2 separate regions of the Homo sapiens genome follow, and region 1 is linked to region 2. The links come from fine-mapping of genetic effects on gene expression. Tissue or cell type: fibroblasts. Region 2 holds a variant in brackets; the other region holds the start of a gene. All regions are shown on one strand. Distances are between the middles of the regions.

The links. PIP is the estimated chance that this variant, and not a neighbour inherited with it, causes the effect.
Region 1: PTPN14 starts here. The variant in region 2 is fine-mapped to the expression of PTPN14 in fibroblasts (GTEx, PIP above 0.99).

The regions. Positions count from the first base shown.
Region 1 is chr1:214,547,385-214,555,539 of GRCh38, forward strand. It overlaps PTPN14 (protein tyrosine phosphatase non-receptor type 14), which reads right to left and starts at 4,218. Exons shown (of 19, transcript NM_005401.5): 1 at 3,799-4,218. RefSeq lists enhancers at 2,881-3,702, 3,703-4,523, 4,524-5,344.
Region 2 is chr1:214,342,063-214,350,217 of GRCh38, forward strand. It overlaps PTPN14 (protein tyrosine phosphatase non-receptor type 14), which reads right to left. Exons shown (of 19, transcript NM_005401.5): 19 at 6,638-8,155. Among named protein-coding and RNA genes, the nearest start is that of SMYD2, 65 kb to the left of the region's middle. RefSeq lists an enhancer at 470-971. The variant A/G (reference allele first, on the strand shown) is at 4,210.

The DNA.
Region 1 (8,155 bases), 210 kb after region 2:
CATACCTGCCCTTTTTTCTAACATTGTTCTAACATTGTTCATTCCTTCTAACATTCCCTTCCGCTTTGAGGTTGATACGAAGATCTATGATTTAACGTTTGTCAAATACTCTAGGCTTCTCAGATGAAAGACAACATTAAAGTTCAAATAACCAGTGGCTGGCATTACACTAGAAGTGTTGCAGTTTACTGTTTATATTTGGGCTTCAAAAAGGGAAATCAAGGCTGCAAAGATACAGCAGCTAGCTTTTGTACTCTAGTTAAAGGCAGACAGAGTTATCCTAACATTCTTTAATCAACTAGATTTCAACATTAGAAATACAAGGATCCTTATATAAAACACTGGACCATCATTACAGTAAGAAGTATACAAGGAAAAGGATCTTGTTCTCTGCCCTTCTAATCTCTCAGTGGCTTTCCCTCCTCAAACTTCTCTACTGCCTGGTCCCCCACCTCTCAATTTCCTCTTGTAGGAGGAGCCACATGGCAGCTGCCAGCCAACATGTTTATTTTGAGCCAATAGACTGAAAAAAAAAAAAAAGTCAAAAACAAAGCTTTATGTGTATGTTGACACACATGTGAATTCAGGCTGCTGAAAAAAATCACACACAAAGAGCACATTCATGGCCACATACAAGTCCTTGAACATATAAATAGCCATCCTTGACCTATTCTGTGTGAGGTACTGTTATACAGCATGACACTGAATTCTCCATACATATCCTGAGAGGCCAAATGTTACCAGATCCATTTTGCAGATGAAGAAACTGAGGCTCAGAAGGGCTATGACGTCCATCCAACATCACACAGCTAAAAAATGGCAGCGCTAGAATTCCAACCTAGCTATATTTCAAACTCCCAAACCTGGACCGCCTGCTCCAGCACACTGACAGCCAGGAAAAGCTACAGAATTTGCCACACATACCCCTTGGACCACTCAATAAGCCCTCCATGGGATGCATACAGAGGAAGCGTAAATTAAATCAATTTAAATCCGTAAGGGGAGATCCAAAAGCGTATTTTAACATTAACTTGAACCTCCTCCCTACCAAAGCTTTCGTGTTTGTTTTCCCTCATTCCTTAATTGGCTAATTAAGTATTTCATCTTGTCTTTCTCATGCCTTATCTCTAACAAAGCTCACAGCACTGTTCTCAGGCTTAAAATGAATTTTTTAAAAACACAGCATTTGGTGACTAAGTAATGAAGCTCAAATGCAAGAATTTGATGAAATCCTTGTTCAAAAATGACAAGAATATGGAACCCAGGGGGGCTATAATATGTAATCAAAGGGTTGATGTTTGCTTCCCCGGAGCAAATTTAAACCTCTAATAAGGAAGGAAGGCACTGGAAAATAAAAAATCCTCATAGTTCTTGACACTTAGCCCATCCGTTCAGGGCAAATAAGAATTATTCTAAAAATTCTGATTTTTCTCTGAATTCCTTATGGTGCTTCCCTATTAAAAGCCTAACTGTCCTTTCTATTACAGCTACCAGCATGACACAGTATGCACAAATCTGAATAACTCAAGTGTTAATAATAATTACATGTTTAAGCCAATGATGGAAACTGGGCAAATGTCTGGGATTAGTGGGAGTGGGCTTCTCTTCAGCCATTTCTCTCATGCAGGTCCCTACACCTTCAGGAAAACTTCTGTGAAGGGGCTGTTCCTGAGATAAGAAAAGATGCTGGTAGAGGGGCTTGGATAAACACCCAAAGTTGTAGGAAGTCAGTGTGTTCTTCCCACTCTGATGTACTGGCCTGAGGTCACCAAAAGCTGGATGTCTGCCACCTCAGCCAGGACTCAGCCACTATGAACAATACTACAACACCACTTCAGTCCAGTGAAGAGACACCCTTGAAAGGCAAACCACGTACAGAATGCTACTGCATTGTAAGAAACTTTTCTAGGCAGGATTTGCTGAATCCTGGGCCATTAGTCTACAAAAATGTGCAAGATAGTGTTTTCTATTTTCATAAAGTTTCAGAGAAAAGAACGACTTTAGCACAACTGTGCTAAAGCAATAGTAATGACTTAAAAGCAGAGAAAAGTATAACAAACTTAGTGACATACAGATGAACGAATTTTGCACCTCATGGCCACCCATTCAGACTGGGCAAAAAGGGCATCATGCCATTCAGCTCCCGCTCATTAAGGCTGTCATTTCTATGGCACAAGCTTCAACCTCATCACCAAACAATTAGCTAACTTTATAATACAAGGTCCGTAATGCTGCGGTATTACCACACCTACGGCTGTCAAACAGCCTTTTTAAAAAAGGAATCATTGCTTGAATGTGGGGGACAAAAAAGAAGAATCAATACCATTTTAATGAAACCGAGCATGGGCCAATTAAAATGTAGATGATCATACAACAGCTGCTTGTGGTAAAACAGCAGCAGGCATGGAGGTGTATCCAATTAGGGAGGCCTTGGCTCCTCGGTAAGCTACTTGTGGTTCCCATAAGTGGCTAACGTGCTTCTAGATTTATTTCTGATATTGGGGGTGGAGAGAATGCTATCCCAGCAACACTGCACCAACATGGCCATAAATGCCCCTCAGGCCCCCAGATGGCTAGGGAAACTTTCTGTCCTTCTTGTGTTCACTCTGCACGAGCTGTTTCCTCTGCCTGGAATACACCCTCCAGAGGAGCACAACCTCTATCCTCTAAGTGTAGTGCACCCTTCACCAGGACCAAGCTCGCCTCAGACTCTCACAGAACCCCTCTTCCATGTATTATCATTCTTCACCGGCCTTCAAGTTTCCTCCACTAGGCTGCAGACTCCTGCCCTGTGATCTCATTTAGCATCTTTCTATCCTGTTCCTAGCAGAGTAGAAGCTGGGTTTGTTGGATGAATGAGTAAACTAATCCATTTCAAGAAGTTAACACATTGGTGGAAACTCTGTAACTGCCCGCACCTGCAGTCTAGAGATTCCTCACCTTCACAAAGAACCTGCGACAGCCAGTCCCTAGACTTAAGCGGAAACCCCACAATTTCTGAAATTGTAGGTGGGGATGAGAAGGTTGGAGAACAAGAACCCAAGGAAGTGAGAGGGAAAGGGAGATAGGGGCAGCGTTACCTCACTGCTCTCTCCAAACGAAAAGGTGTAAACCCCATTTACAAGTATTCAAACCTGAGATCTGGGGGTCACGTGGGGAAGGAGAGGCTGTTAATACCTACAACTTTGGAAGTTTGAGGTGAAGACCTGATCTGAAATTGTTTGGCCACAGCTTTTTTTCTACGAGCCAGCTCGACCACCCAAGTAGGAGCCTCGACGCCCAGGAGTTCGGTGGCACCACTGGGGCCTAGTGAGAGGGCAGGAAAACTCCGCTCCCCTCAAGATTCCTTCCCGGTGGTGGTGGGGTGTGATTGGGAGCGTCGGGCAGCTGCATCCCCCTACCGCTGCAGCGACCGCGACGTCGTTCGTCTTTCATCCTCTAGCCCCCAAGGTCTAGGTATCTCTAGTTGCCCTTCCGAGGCCCTCTCTCGTTCCCAAAACGCAGAAGGGAATGGAGAGAGGGGACCAGGGTGTGGGTTTAACCACAAACTCCCCAGACTGCGCTCACCTTCCAGCTCGCTCCCGGGACCAGCTTTGCGCCTCACCGCGGGCAGCTCCCACCGCGAGATAACACCCCTGCGGCCCGGCCACCCCGCGCCCCAGGCTGCCCTGCCAGGCGTCCCGGGGCGCCAATCGCAAGTTGGCGTTGCCAGCGTCTGCCCAAGTCATCTGCAGGGCGCCCGGAGCGCCAAGGCGGCCTCCAACCTCGGGCCCAACTCCCGGCTTGGACGGGGCTTACCTGCTTACATGGCCCCCGTGGCGCCCCGGAGTCCCGCGCGGAAAGGCTGTCCTTCGCGGCGGCGGAGCCGATTCCCCACGGAATTGATTCCAGTGACTGGCGGAGGAGGGGCGAAGGGAAGGAGCCGCAGGAGGCGAAAGGGGAGGGAGGTTTCCGCCGCGATCCCGGCGCGAGAGTCCGAGCAGAGGCGCACCGGGGGAGAAAAGGAGAAAAACCTAAGCACGGGGCTGTCCCGCCCGAGGAGGCCGGGGAGGATGGCTCAGCTGGGAGGGGAAGGAGCGCCAGTGGCCACTTGATGTCTGTCTAGGGCTCCCCGAGGACCTGAGCCAGGAGAGCAGGCGGCTGAGCCCGGAGAAGCACAGCAACCTGCCCCCGAGTCTGCGCCCGCTGCGCTCACTCCGCCGAGAAAAAGTTGGAAAGAACTTTGAGGGGCCGGGAGAGCCAGAGCGGCAGGAAATGCGAGCGGCCGGGAGAGGAGGGAGGAAGGGGCCGTGCGAGTGGGAGGGGACGGAGCAGGCGCCGGCGGCCACGGCTCCCCCACCCCAGAGCCGGGCTCCGCGGCCCTGGGGGCCGGGAGGCGGAGGGAGCGCTGGGCGCGCGGCCGGGGGCGGGGAGGAATGCGGCCCGGGAGGGCGCGCGCCGGGGGCGCCGCGGGCGCGCGCTGAAACGTGGAGCCCCAGCTCCCGAGCTCCCGAGCTGGAGGCGCGCCGTCCTTGGGGACGTCACAGCGCTGGAATCCGAGGAATGCCGGGCTGCAGGAGCTCCTTCTGCAGGCCCGGAGAAGTCGCACACTTTTAATGGGGTAGTTTTGGAAAATGTTTTAAAAGGTGGGGGCCGAGGACGGAGGACCGGATGAAACTCCCTGGAGTAAGAGACGTGGAAGTGGAGAGAGCAAGGCGACCGCAGCCACCCCAACCCTGGGCTGCTCCCGCCGTTGGGGAGAAAGAGGCAAGGCAAGGAAGAGCCCACCTAGACTTCCGAGGACCGCAGAGACGGGGCGGCGGCAGGAACTTGCTCACCCCGACCTACATTCAGAATAGTCCACCTTATATTGGGGAACCCTCCAAGCAGGACGTTTCATGCAGCCACCCCACAGGGGAAAACAGACCAGGAGAAAGTAAGGTGGCCTCACCAAGTAGGCAATCTCAGAGATCTCTCCCTAGAATCTCTGGGTACTGGACCCGGTGTCTTAGCCTTCTCTCCCTGCCCCCTCCCGCCCCGTAGGAATGATAAAAAGCAGCCTGTGTGCTGAGAGTTGGAAAATGTCGTTTTCCCGGTTTGTTCCATGCCACAGAATCGCCCCACCCTGCCTGGGTAGGCACTGGGAGGGAACTTCCTTAGCACTTTCGGAGGTGGAGTTAATGAGACGCAGCTGGTATGATGGAAAAAGCTCGGAGCCAGGCGACTGAACCTGGGTTTTAGGCCCTGCCCGATTGGATAACTGAGGAGTATCCCAGCCCCTGAGATCCTAGGTTTCTGTAGCTGCAAAATTAAATAATTTGTCTAGATTTCTGTGGTCCTTTGCATTGCTACAAACATGTCTTGGGATTTATCTCGGTAAGATTCCAGTCCTTTGTTGAAAAGGGACCTTGAAGTCGTTGGCACACAATGTATTGTCCCAAATCACTTCAGTGTCCGGCAACTCATGCAAAAATTCCTGGCCTCTTGGGGAAGAGAATTGGAAACCAAAAAGCGCGGTGGCTCACACCTGTAATCCCAGCACTTTGGGAAGCCAAAGCTGGGGGATTGGCTGAGCTCAGAAGTTCGACACCAGCCCGGGCAACACGGTGAAACCCCGTCTCTACTAAAATTCAAAAAATGTTTCGGGGGTGGCGGCGTGCGCCTGTAGTCCCAGCTACTCTGGGGCTGAGGCAGGTTAATTGCTTGAACTTGGGAGGCGGAGGTTGCAGTGAGCCGAGATCGCGCCACTGCACTCCAGCCTGGGCTACACGGCCAGACTCCTCTCAAAAAAATAAAATAAAATAAAATAAAATAAAATAAATAAATCCGTAGTGACTCTGATTTTCTTCGAGCATCTGCCAATCTCTAGAACTGTAAATTAGAGAAAACGCCGAGTGCAATGCAAAAGTGATGGAAAGAAAAGGTTGAAGGGAAATCAACTTTCTCACATTTTAAAGGAAATAGCTGTACAGACGTGCTGGGTTTCCAAAGAAAACATTAGGCAGTGCCTGACTGTGTTCCAGAAAGTGTGGAAAGCACTCCCCCATTCCTAGATGAGGAAAGTGAGGCATGAAGAAATTACCTGTCTCACTGAGGGTCATACAACTAGGAAGATATGATCAGGGCCCTAGTCTGTCAGGCCTAAAGTGCATGCTCTTCATCTCTTTGAAATTGGACCCAAACAGGATTAGGATTAAAGATAAGAAAATGCCTTCAGGATCTCAATGTAAAACTCTGGCCTTTGCTCTTTCCTGGGAGATGGGAGACCTCTTGCTTGGTGTCTTTTCTAGTGAAAAGACACTAGGAAATATATTGTGTTGCTCTAACATCACTGTGCTACCAAACTGAGCACAGCACCCTGAGGCTGTTGTGGCATAAAAGAAGCAGCAAAGGACTTGTTGTCCTTCTTGGGCAGACACAAGGGTTCCGGTTCTGCCTCTGACCAGCCTTGGGACCCTGATCAAGGCACTTCACCTCTAGGCCTGAATTTATTTTCTAAGTAGAGTGTGGCAAAGAGGGCAGAGCTTGGTTGGAATAGTTCATCTCTGAGGTCTTTCCCAGGACTAAACTTCCATCAAAGTACTCTTCTCCAGATAGATGGCATGCCTGTGGAGGAAGCTAAGCAATAAAGCCAGTGGATAAAGCCAGTGTCTGGGGACAGGACTGTTTTCACACCGCCTTCAGATGAAAATGAATGTTGAGACTCCAATGAATGTGGCTGAGTGTTCAATGATAAGTAAAGCTAAGATTTAGCACTAACCCTGTGGACACATTTTAAAAATTTAGATAATTTTACTTACAGGAAGACAGTCTGGGCAACATGGCGAAACCCCAACTCTACACAAAATACAAAAATTAGTCAGGTATGGTAGCTCGAGGCTTGTAGTCCCAGCTACTAGAGAGGCTGAGGTGGGAGGATTGCATGAGCCTGAGAGACCGAGGCTGCAATGAGCTGAGATCACACCACTGCACTCCAGCCTGGGTGACAGAGTGAGATCCTCTCTTGAAAAAGAAAAAAAATATGCGTTATTAACTTAAAAGCCTATAGAGTGTATCTGACTAGCCATATTTCTTTTTCTTTAGAATAGATCACAGAAAGGCAATACAAATAAGAATATTTTCTAAGGCCGGGCGCGGTGGCTCACACCTATAATCCCAGCACTTTGGGAGGCCGAGGCGGGTGGATCACGAGGTCAGGAGATCGAGACCACAGTGAAACCCCTTCTCTACTAAAAATACAAAATTAGCCAGGCGTGGTGGTGGGCGCCTGCAGTCCCATCTACTTGGGAGGCTGAGGCAGGAGAATGGCGTGAACCCAGGAGGTGGAGCTTGCAGTGACCCGAGATCGCGCCATGGCACTCCAGCCTGGGCGACAGAGCAAGGCTTCGTCTCAAAAAAAAAAAAAAAGAATATTTTCTAAATAGAAAGTACAGCTTGAAGTGACAAAAACCTTTCATTCTCAGGATAAATATATAAAAGCTAGTTTCAAGCTTCTTTCAAAAAGAAAAAAGAAACCCATTTCCTAAATCTTTGTCACACTCAAGTCTCCTTATACTACATCAGGGTGAAAAGGAATTCGACTCATGGAATAGGTCCTGAACACATCACTACATGTTTGCTTTAAAGCTTTGCAATTGTAAGAACTTATCAATATTACATTTCTCAAAGCAATTACCAGATTCTTATAAGCCCAATTCAAACTACAAATACAAAGAAGAATCCCGTGGGCTTCCACAATTCCTCCCAGCCCCAATGTGTTCCTCTCATTAATGCATTCATTTTACACCTTCAAAGATGCTGAAGCCACTGAAAGCAGAACAAGTTCCCCAAATCAAAGCCAACTGGAAAGTAAGCCTGCTTTGTTAAGAAAACTCTGATGATCTCTAGGGGCCTTTTACAAATTTTTAAGTTTTATATGTACATGTATGTATATAGTCCAGCTTAATTCCAATTCCTAAAAGGATGTTTAGCAACTTGGAGTAATGGAGAGAAGTGGGAAGCTTTTTCAAATATACATCCTCTCTGAATCCTCTGCTTCTGTATCTTATGCCCTGGGTCTAGGGTAGAGATGGGTTATGGTGGGAGTTGGGAGGAGTGTAATATTTTTAGACAGTGTTTTAGGAAGATACAATTCACATTCAATAAAAAGCACAACTCTTAAGTGTAGATGCAGCTT
Region 2 (8,155 bases):
AATTGCTTCTCAAATGGAAATTTTCTAGTCCACAGTCCCAGTAGTCATCGCTGGGAGGTGCTCACAGGCTTTTGCCGTAAGTCCCAGCCAGTGCTCCACAAAGAACTATCCCACAGAGATTTTGTGTATATCAGCACTCCAGCTTTTATTCTACACTGTGTGGGCTTGGGCAATCTTACTGGTTCCCATTTAGCATGTCCAATTAATATTGCTTGAAGATGATTTATACACCTTCTTCTTTGCAGACACAGTTCCTCAGTTAAACCTAATGTCCATCCCCATAATACATTCAGATGCAACTTTTTGTACAAATTTTCACCTTAATCTCATCAACCCCTACAGTCCTAACTGTAGCCACCATCGGACATCATCAACAAGTTTTAGTTTTACAATATTAGGTAAAGAAAGTGTTCCCCAAGATGACATAATATCCATTCCCACAAAACATTCAAGTAAAGGAGACACAATTTTACAAAAAGTCTGTTTAAACATTCTAACTTTCATAATCCTGTCAACTCTTCTGTATTCCCTCAACCTAATTCTAGCTTATGTTAGAGCTTCACCAGTGGGTTTGGATACCACAGTCCATGAAGCCCCCATGTAAAGGAGTTCCAGAAATTTCTCCACCCCCTAAATGGGTGGAGTACATAACCCATTCATGTACATAACCCATTCATGTACATAACCCATTCATTTACATAAAGCTTTGGGTCACCAGCAGGGGGTTGAGGCAAAGAACTCTGACCTTTTTGTCAGTCTTGGTCTTGGTTAATCTTACTATTGTCCTGTGATTCCAGGTCAGGTTTCTCATTGTAATCTTGGCCTTCTGGCTTTTAAAATTTCTCCAAACTGGAGTAAATAGAGTGAACTTGTTTGGGACCCTTTAATGTTGGGTGACTGATATGTTTTTGCTGTGTCCCCACCCAAATCTCATTTTGAATTGTAGCTCCCATAATTCCCATGTGTTGCGGGAGGGACCTGGTGGGACATAATTGAATCATGGGGGTGGTTTCCCCCATACTGTTCTCGTGGTAGTGAATAAGTCTCACGAGATCTGATGGTTTTATAAGGGGAAACCTCTTTCCCTTTGGCTCTCATTCTCTCTTATCTGCTGCCACGTAAGACGTGCCTTTTGCCTTCCACCATGATTGTGAGGCCACCCCAGCCACATGGAAGTGTGAGTCTGTTAAACTTCTTTTTCTTTATACCCAGTCTGATAAAGACATACCCGAGACTGGGTATGTCTTTATCAGCAGTGTGAAAATGGACTAATACCATTAGGAGACACTTTGGTCCACCCAAACTTTAATAGTGCTGTATTAAGACCTTTGTTTTAACCCTATCAATGTCTGTCTTAGTCATACCTTTTTTTTTGTTTGTTTTTTTGAGATGAAGTCTCACTCTGTCACCCAGGCTGGAGTGCAATGGCATGATCTCAGCTCGCTGCAACCTCCTCCTCCCAGGTTCAAGCGATTCTTCTGCCTCAGCCTCCCAAGTAGGTGGGATTACAGGTGTGCACCACCATGCCCGGCTAATTTTTTTATTTTTAGTAGATATGGGGTTTCACCATGTCGGCCAGGCTGGTCTCAAACTCCTAACCTCAGGTGATCCACCCACCTTGTCCTCCCAAAGTGCTGAGATTACAGGCGTGAGCCACCACACCTGGCCTCATCCCATTTTTTAATAACCATTCAAGGTTTTCACCCTGCTGGGACAAGTCTGTTGACTCTTTCCCTTTCTTTTTGCTTTTTGTTTTGCCACTATCAATGTTTTCTTTATTCACTCCATTTCTTAACCATTTAAAAATTTCTACCCTCTTAGGATGAATCCCTGGACTCATCCCTCTACCTTTCATACCTATGCCTAATTCATATTTTCCTGTGAATTAGTCTAGTGTTTTAATTAGCATCAGTAAGAACCATGAGAGGAAGCAGAGAGAGCAAATTTGATAGGGCTTCTAAGACTGTTGCTCAGTTTTGCAGCAGTAAAGTTATATGCGACACCCACGCAAAAGGTGCCCATGCCTCTTAATCATAACATTGACCATGATCTTGGCAATGGGCATATTCAATGGGTGAGTGTCCCAATTACCAAAAAGCCAGTCCCACATGACTTGCATACACAGTTTATCAGGTACTTCATCAGAGTGTTGCTTTTAACATTTATAGGGGGAGTTGGACAGCCTCACTTCTCAGAGTAAACATACCTCATAGTGCCTTTTATCCAGTCCACCAGGCTGGTTGTTTCTTCAGGAATAACCTGCTGTGTGTCTGTGTCAGATATAGCCATCTGTGATTGTTCCACAGTGAGCAGTGAGTCCTCTGTCAACCCAGACATGTTCTTTCATTCTGCAGCATTCAAAACCAAAGATACTGTCTCTAAATCAGTTACTCTCAGAATCCACTTAAGTAAGGGTTTTTCAGGAAGCTGATGATATTGATCTACAAATGCGACAACTCTTCCACACTATCCCCCCTGGTTTCAATAGTTTATTGGTTGTACCTTCCCCCTACACACACCAACTTCTTGGTGACCAGAGGTCTTAGAGGTACCCTTTGTTGTCTCCACATAATTCTACCCTTTGAGGGCAGCTTCAAGGCTAGTGGCCAAAGTTCAGACTGACCAAAATCTGAGTTTGGTTTAGCATCAAAGTCCATCCAGCACTCTTTTAATTTCACTTTAGCTATTACAGATATAACAAAAACCAAGGAGTTATATGTTCTGCACTTTTCCTATTCATTTACATTTCCTTACGCATCCAATGAACCAATTCCTCAGCAGTTAGATCCACCTCCAAATTCCATTTGTAACTAAATTTAGTCACTGATAACAGCACAGCTGTCATGCTGGTCCATATCATGGGTGACTACATGACCACCCAGGAATCAAAAGTTCTGTATCTCCCACCCTTTCATCCTTTCTCTTCCCAAACCACTTTTCCATTAGCTAGGACCATTCTAGTGAATCCTAAATTTTCTGACACTAAATAATCAGGGTCTTTCTAATCCCACTTCTGACACCAATATGAGCTGTTTTGACTCACAACAGTTCTGAAACCAAATGTGTGGTGTTTTTGTTTTTATGCCTCACAACCATTCTCTAACTCTTCAATCACCAACTGTGTGTCCTACAATTCAATTCAACTCTGACACTAATTACCCAGAGTTAGTGTCAGACTACACTGGTTTAAGGGCTCAGTCCCACAAGACTGCCCTCACTTCAGATGCCAGTCACAAGTTATTCAGGTTCCCAGGTTAACCATACTTCTGTCTGACTTGGCTACAAAGTCAAGGGCTTCCCACAACACCTCCTCCCTTATTTTATGTTCATTAATTTGCTAGAATAGCTCACAAAACTCTAAAACACACTTTACTTTCTATTACTGGTTTATTATAAAAAAGACAAATGAATAGGCCAATGAAGAGGGTGAACATAGGGTAAAGTCCGGAAGGATCCTGAGAGAAGCTTCTGTTCCCATGGAGTTGTGGTATGCCACACTCCTGGCATGTGGATGTATTCACCAACTCAGAAGCTCTCTGAATGCTATTGGTCAGGGGGTTTTATGGCAATTCCATTACATAAGCACAATTGATTAATTCACCATTGAAATTGACTCAATCTCTAGGATCTCTTTCTTTCCAGAGGTTGGGGATGGGGCTGAAAGTTCTAAGCTCCTAATCAAGTCTTAGTCTTTCTGAAGACCTGCCCCCATCCTGAAGCTATCTAGGGTACCACTAAGAATTGTCTCACTACAGCCGGGCGCGGTGGCTCACGCCTGTAATGCCAGCACTTTGGGAGGCCGAGGCGGGTAGATCACAAGGTCAGGAGATTGAGACCATCCTGGCTAACATGGTGAAACCCCGTCTCTACTAAAAATACAAAAAATTAGCCAGGCTTGGTGGCGGGCACCTGTAGTCCCAGCTACTCGGGAGGCTGAGGCAGGAGAATGGCGTGAACCTGGGAGGCGGAGCTTGCAGTGAGCCGAGATCGCACCACTTCACTCCAGCCTGGGTGACAGAGCGAGACTGTGTCTCAAAAAAAAAAAAAAAATTGTCTCACTAAAACAAAAGAGCCTCCTATCACCCTTGATATGAAATTCCAGAATTTTCTGTGATACCACATGGCCATTGCTTGTTTTGCTATATGTTAATGTCTTTCATAATAACTTCTGAGCTCTGTATATATTGGGGTATTAGCTCCTTGTCATAT[A/G]TTAAAAATATTTTTACTCTAGTTGTCCATTAACTTTATTTTTCATGACCCTTGCTGTACAAAAGCAGATTGTTTTCATCTTTAAGTGAATAAAACTATTACTGGTTTATTGTAAAAAGTAATATTAATTTTTATTTAAATCTTTCATCTAGCTAGAATTTTTTTTTTTTTTTTTTTGAGACTGAGTCTCGCTCTGTCACCCAGGCTGGAGTACAATAGCGCAATCTCGGCTCACTACAACCTCCGCCTCCCGGGTTCAAGCGATTCTCCTGTCTCAGCCTCCTAAGTAGCTGGGATTACAGGCATGCGCCACCACGCCTGGCTAATTTTTGCATTTTTAGTAGAGACAGGGTTTCACCACGTTGGTCTGGCTGGTCCCAAACTCCTGACCTCGTGATCCACCCGCCTCGGCCTCCCGAAGTGCTGGGATTATAGGCGTGAGCCACCACGCCGGGCAGAATTGTTTAATAAGATATACAGGCCAAGCATGGTGGCTCATGTGTGTAATCCCAGCACTTTGGGAGTCCAAGGTGGGCTGATCACTTGAGCCCAGGAGTTCAGGATGAGCCTGTGCAACATGGCAAAACCCCATCTCTATAATAAATACAAAAATTAGCCGGGCGTGGTGGTGCATGCCTGTAGTCCCAGCTACTTGGGAGGCCGAGGTGGGATCACCCGCGCCCAGGAGGCACAGGGTTCAGTAAGCCAAGATCGTGCCACTGCACTCCAGGCTGGGCGACAGAGCGAGACCCAGTCTCAAATAAATAAAAATAATAAAATATCCCATGGTATTCCTTAATAAATTTTAGTTTTCATTTATTGAATTACTTGTTGAATTATTTATTATTTTCCCATGCTGATTTGGAAGGGTACCATTATCATTTCTCTAAGACTTTGGTTTATTTCTGCAGTATTTCATTCTATTGATCTATTCTTGTGCCAGTAAAATACTCTATTGTTGCACTGCAAAACTTTTAGTATATACTAGGGCTAATCCTTCTGGGTTCCCTTGAATTTTTCTGGTGGTGTTGTGATTTTTTTATTGGACTTGCACTAGAGTCAGTGATATACAGAGAACTGGCCTCTTCAGGAGTCTTCCTATTCAAGAATGTGGTAAGTTTATCAATTTGTCTAAGTTTTGCCTCAGAAGGAGTTTTGCTGTGTTTATACAAGTCTCATTTATTCTTTTTGTTAGATGTTTCTTTTCTTTAGCTGAGTTTTTTTTTGCACCCATTATGTTTCTTAACTAGTAAATCTGGTGAGTTTTTCCCATTTATTTTCATTAAATAAAATAAGAGGTAAAATCACATAAAATAGCCATATTTGGTTCTGGTATTGTCATCTTATTGCATATTTGTGTGTGTGCGTTGCTGTTTCTTATACTTATCTTTAGTTTTGTGGGGAATTATTCTGTTTCTCTCTTTTTAAAAATTTTCTTCCCCAGCTCTGCTAACAGTATATTTGGAGACAAATACGTCTACCAGGTTACTGTTTTCTCTCTCAATTATGTAACAAACCTCTACTTTTTCTGTTTATCAACCAAAGAAAAGAAACTGGTTCTATTTGCTCAGCTCACAAAAGAGAAAATGAATTAGTGTATCTGTTCTCCTGCCATTCTACCCGATTTATCTCCATTTTCATTGGCCTATTTTGTCTACTATCATCTTTTTTAACATTATGTAGCCTTTCTTTCAATAATTATAATTGCTTTGTTGCCACAGTCACCATAGAGAATTAAGTGTATGTTTAATGAGATTTGCTTGCCATATCCTCTCACCCCAGAGTGGCTTACAGTATTCTCATTTTTTTGATGTGAAACTAGTTGGGATCTCTGGTAGTTCAACAACTGCTTGTATAGTCATGGGGTTGTCAATGCATTACTGGGAGAAGTTGTTATACTTTTCTGTTACTTACCAAGGATACATAAAGCATCTACCCACATATGAGGGGTTCACCGTGAATGTGCTATGGTGGTTACTGGCTGAAAGTCTGGGACAGGACAGCCACCTTTAAACCTGGACACAAGTTGAGCTGTTATAAAGCTGAAAGGCAAAAGCAAGAATTTAAATTTTCTACAGCAGCCTGGTTGGTGCCTGCCTTTTCCACATCAACAGTTTGGTACCTGAGTAAATGACAGTGAAGGAGGAGTGAGTAGGGGCTTGGAGCTTAACGAGGCTTATTGCTGCATTTGTGAGAAAGACCCATTTCTATGTATTCTTCACTCCACTTGCCTAGTGATCACCCCTTTCAGGTTTCTTCTAACAGTGACAACCTTGGGAATTTCAAACTAAATCTTCAGTATGATAAGGTTATGCAGGACTAAAAACTGGGTAGCAATAAATGGGCTTTAGAAAACAAAGCATGCAGGTTTTCCCAGGCACTTTCAACTAATGCAAACATATACAGTACAGAAAAGAGAAGATGTAACTTTTCTCTGAAAAAAAGGTTTATTGCATATGGAAATCAATAGATATCTTTTACAAAAAAAGGTTAGAATAAAGATCTCACATTTGTAAAGGCACATATGAAACATTTTATAGCAAGCACAAGGGCAGTGAGAACATCAACAAGGTCCAATATCTAAATAAGACTTTATAAAAACAGATAGGAAACAGTGCAAAAAATACTGTCAAAGTCAGTTCTATACACCTCATAACTGTGTATACAACTGGCAAGCATAAGCTTATTTACTGATATAAAATAGCACATAGAATAGCATGCATAGTTTTATTTTAGGCTTTTCATATTATTAAATTGATAGGGAGTCTATACCAAAGTACAGTTGACATGAATAGTGATAAAAATCACTCCCCAGCTTAGGGAATGTCCTATAAACATCTCACCCCTCCCTCTGCTTACAACTACAGTTTGGTAGTAAGGAGACTGGGCTTCCATCTTGCAAGGTGGCAAGCGGCCACCACAGGGGGCGAATGTGCTCTCAGGATCCCAAGTCCCAACCTGGAATGCATTTCTTACGGCAACAACATAAGAGATGGTGATTAAATGTCTGGGTCAGCCCACAAAAGCCAACCAGATCTGGCTATCACAGCCCTCCATTTGGGCTGTGGTGGAGGTCAGTGGGCTTCTATGGGCTGACGCAAGAACCTTAAGAACAAACCGGTTTCTAAGTTGGGGACTTGTCTGTACATCGTTTCAAAATGAAACCTAATAAATGTCATTTGTTTTGAATGATACCAAAATTCACAACATTTTGTGAAACAAAGATCAAGGAAAGCATCAAAATACTGAAGTAGGGAGCACAAGCCTAGTCCAGTGAAACAAACTAGATTAGCTTGTTACTTGATGTAACACAAGTTACATAAGGTTACACATTTATTAGTAATTTGCATATTTAAACCTTTTTTTCCACTGAAGTATCCTCAAGCACATTAATTAGCTATTGAAGGAACAAAGGACATACATAGGAACTCATCTCTGATGAAGAGTAGCTTTATGTCAGAAAGGAGAAGGCTAATGAATTTTTAAGATTCCAAACAGTGGCAAGAAAGTTCAAAGGAAATTGCAGTAAAATTGTACAATGTTCAAGTTGAAAAAAAAAATGGCTCTGAATTACAGCATTCAGTTCTATGCTCAAGGTATGTATTAGCTAACACTGCAGTTGTCAGAGGTGGGAGGCCCCTGAGAAATGCTGAGAATGCCAGGCACCCCAGTTCTGAGAGCCACCCTAGCTAAACTCAAAGCAGCATTCTTGAGATTTTAGCAAAAGGCTCCGCCCCAAGCCACAAAAAGATCCCAATCCAATCTTTTCAGCTTTATCCTCTAAAACCTTTTGTCAGATGAGATAGCATTTGTGTTTCCCAGGAGGAGAAGGTTGGGGAAGAAAATGAAGATAGCTTACATACAGATTTTGGATGACCCGCTAATCTTTCCCCTTCCTAGGTAAGTGAAAACAGATAAAATGTTTCTGGGCAGCCCAAAGGTTTAC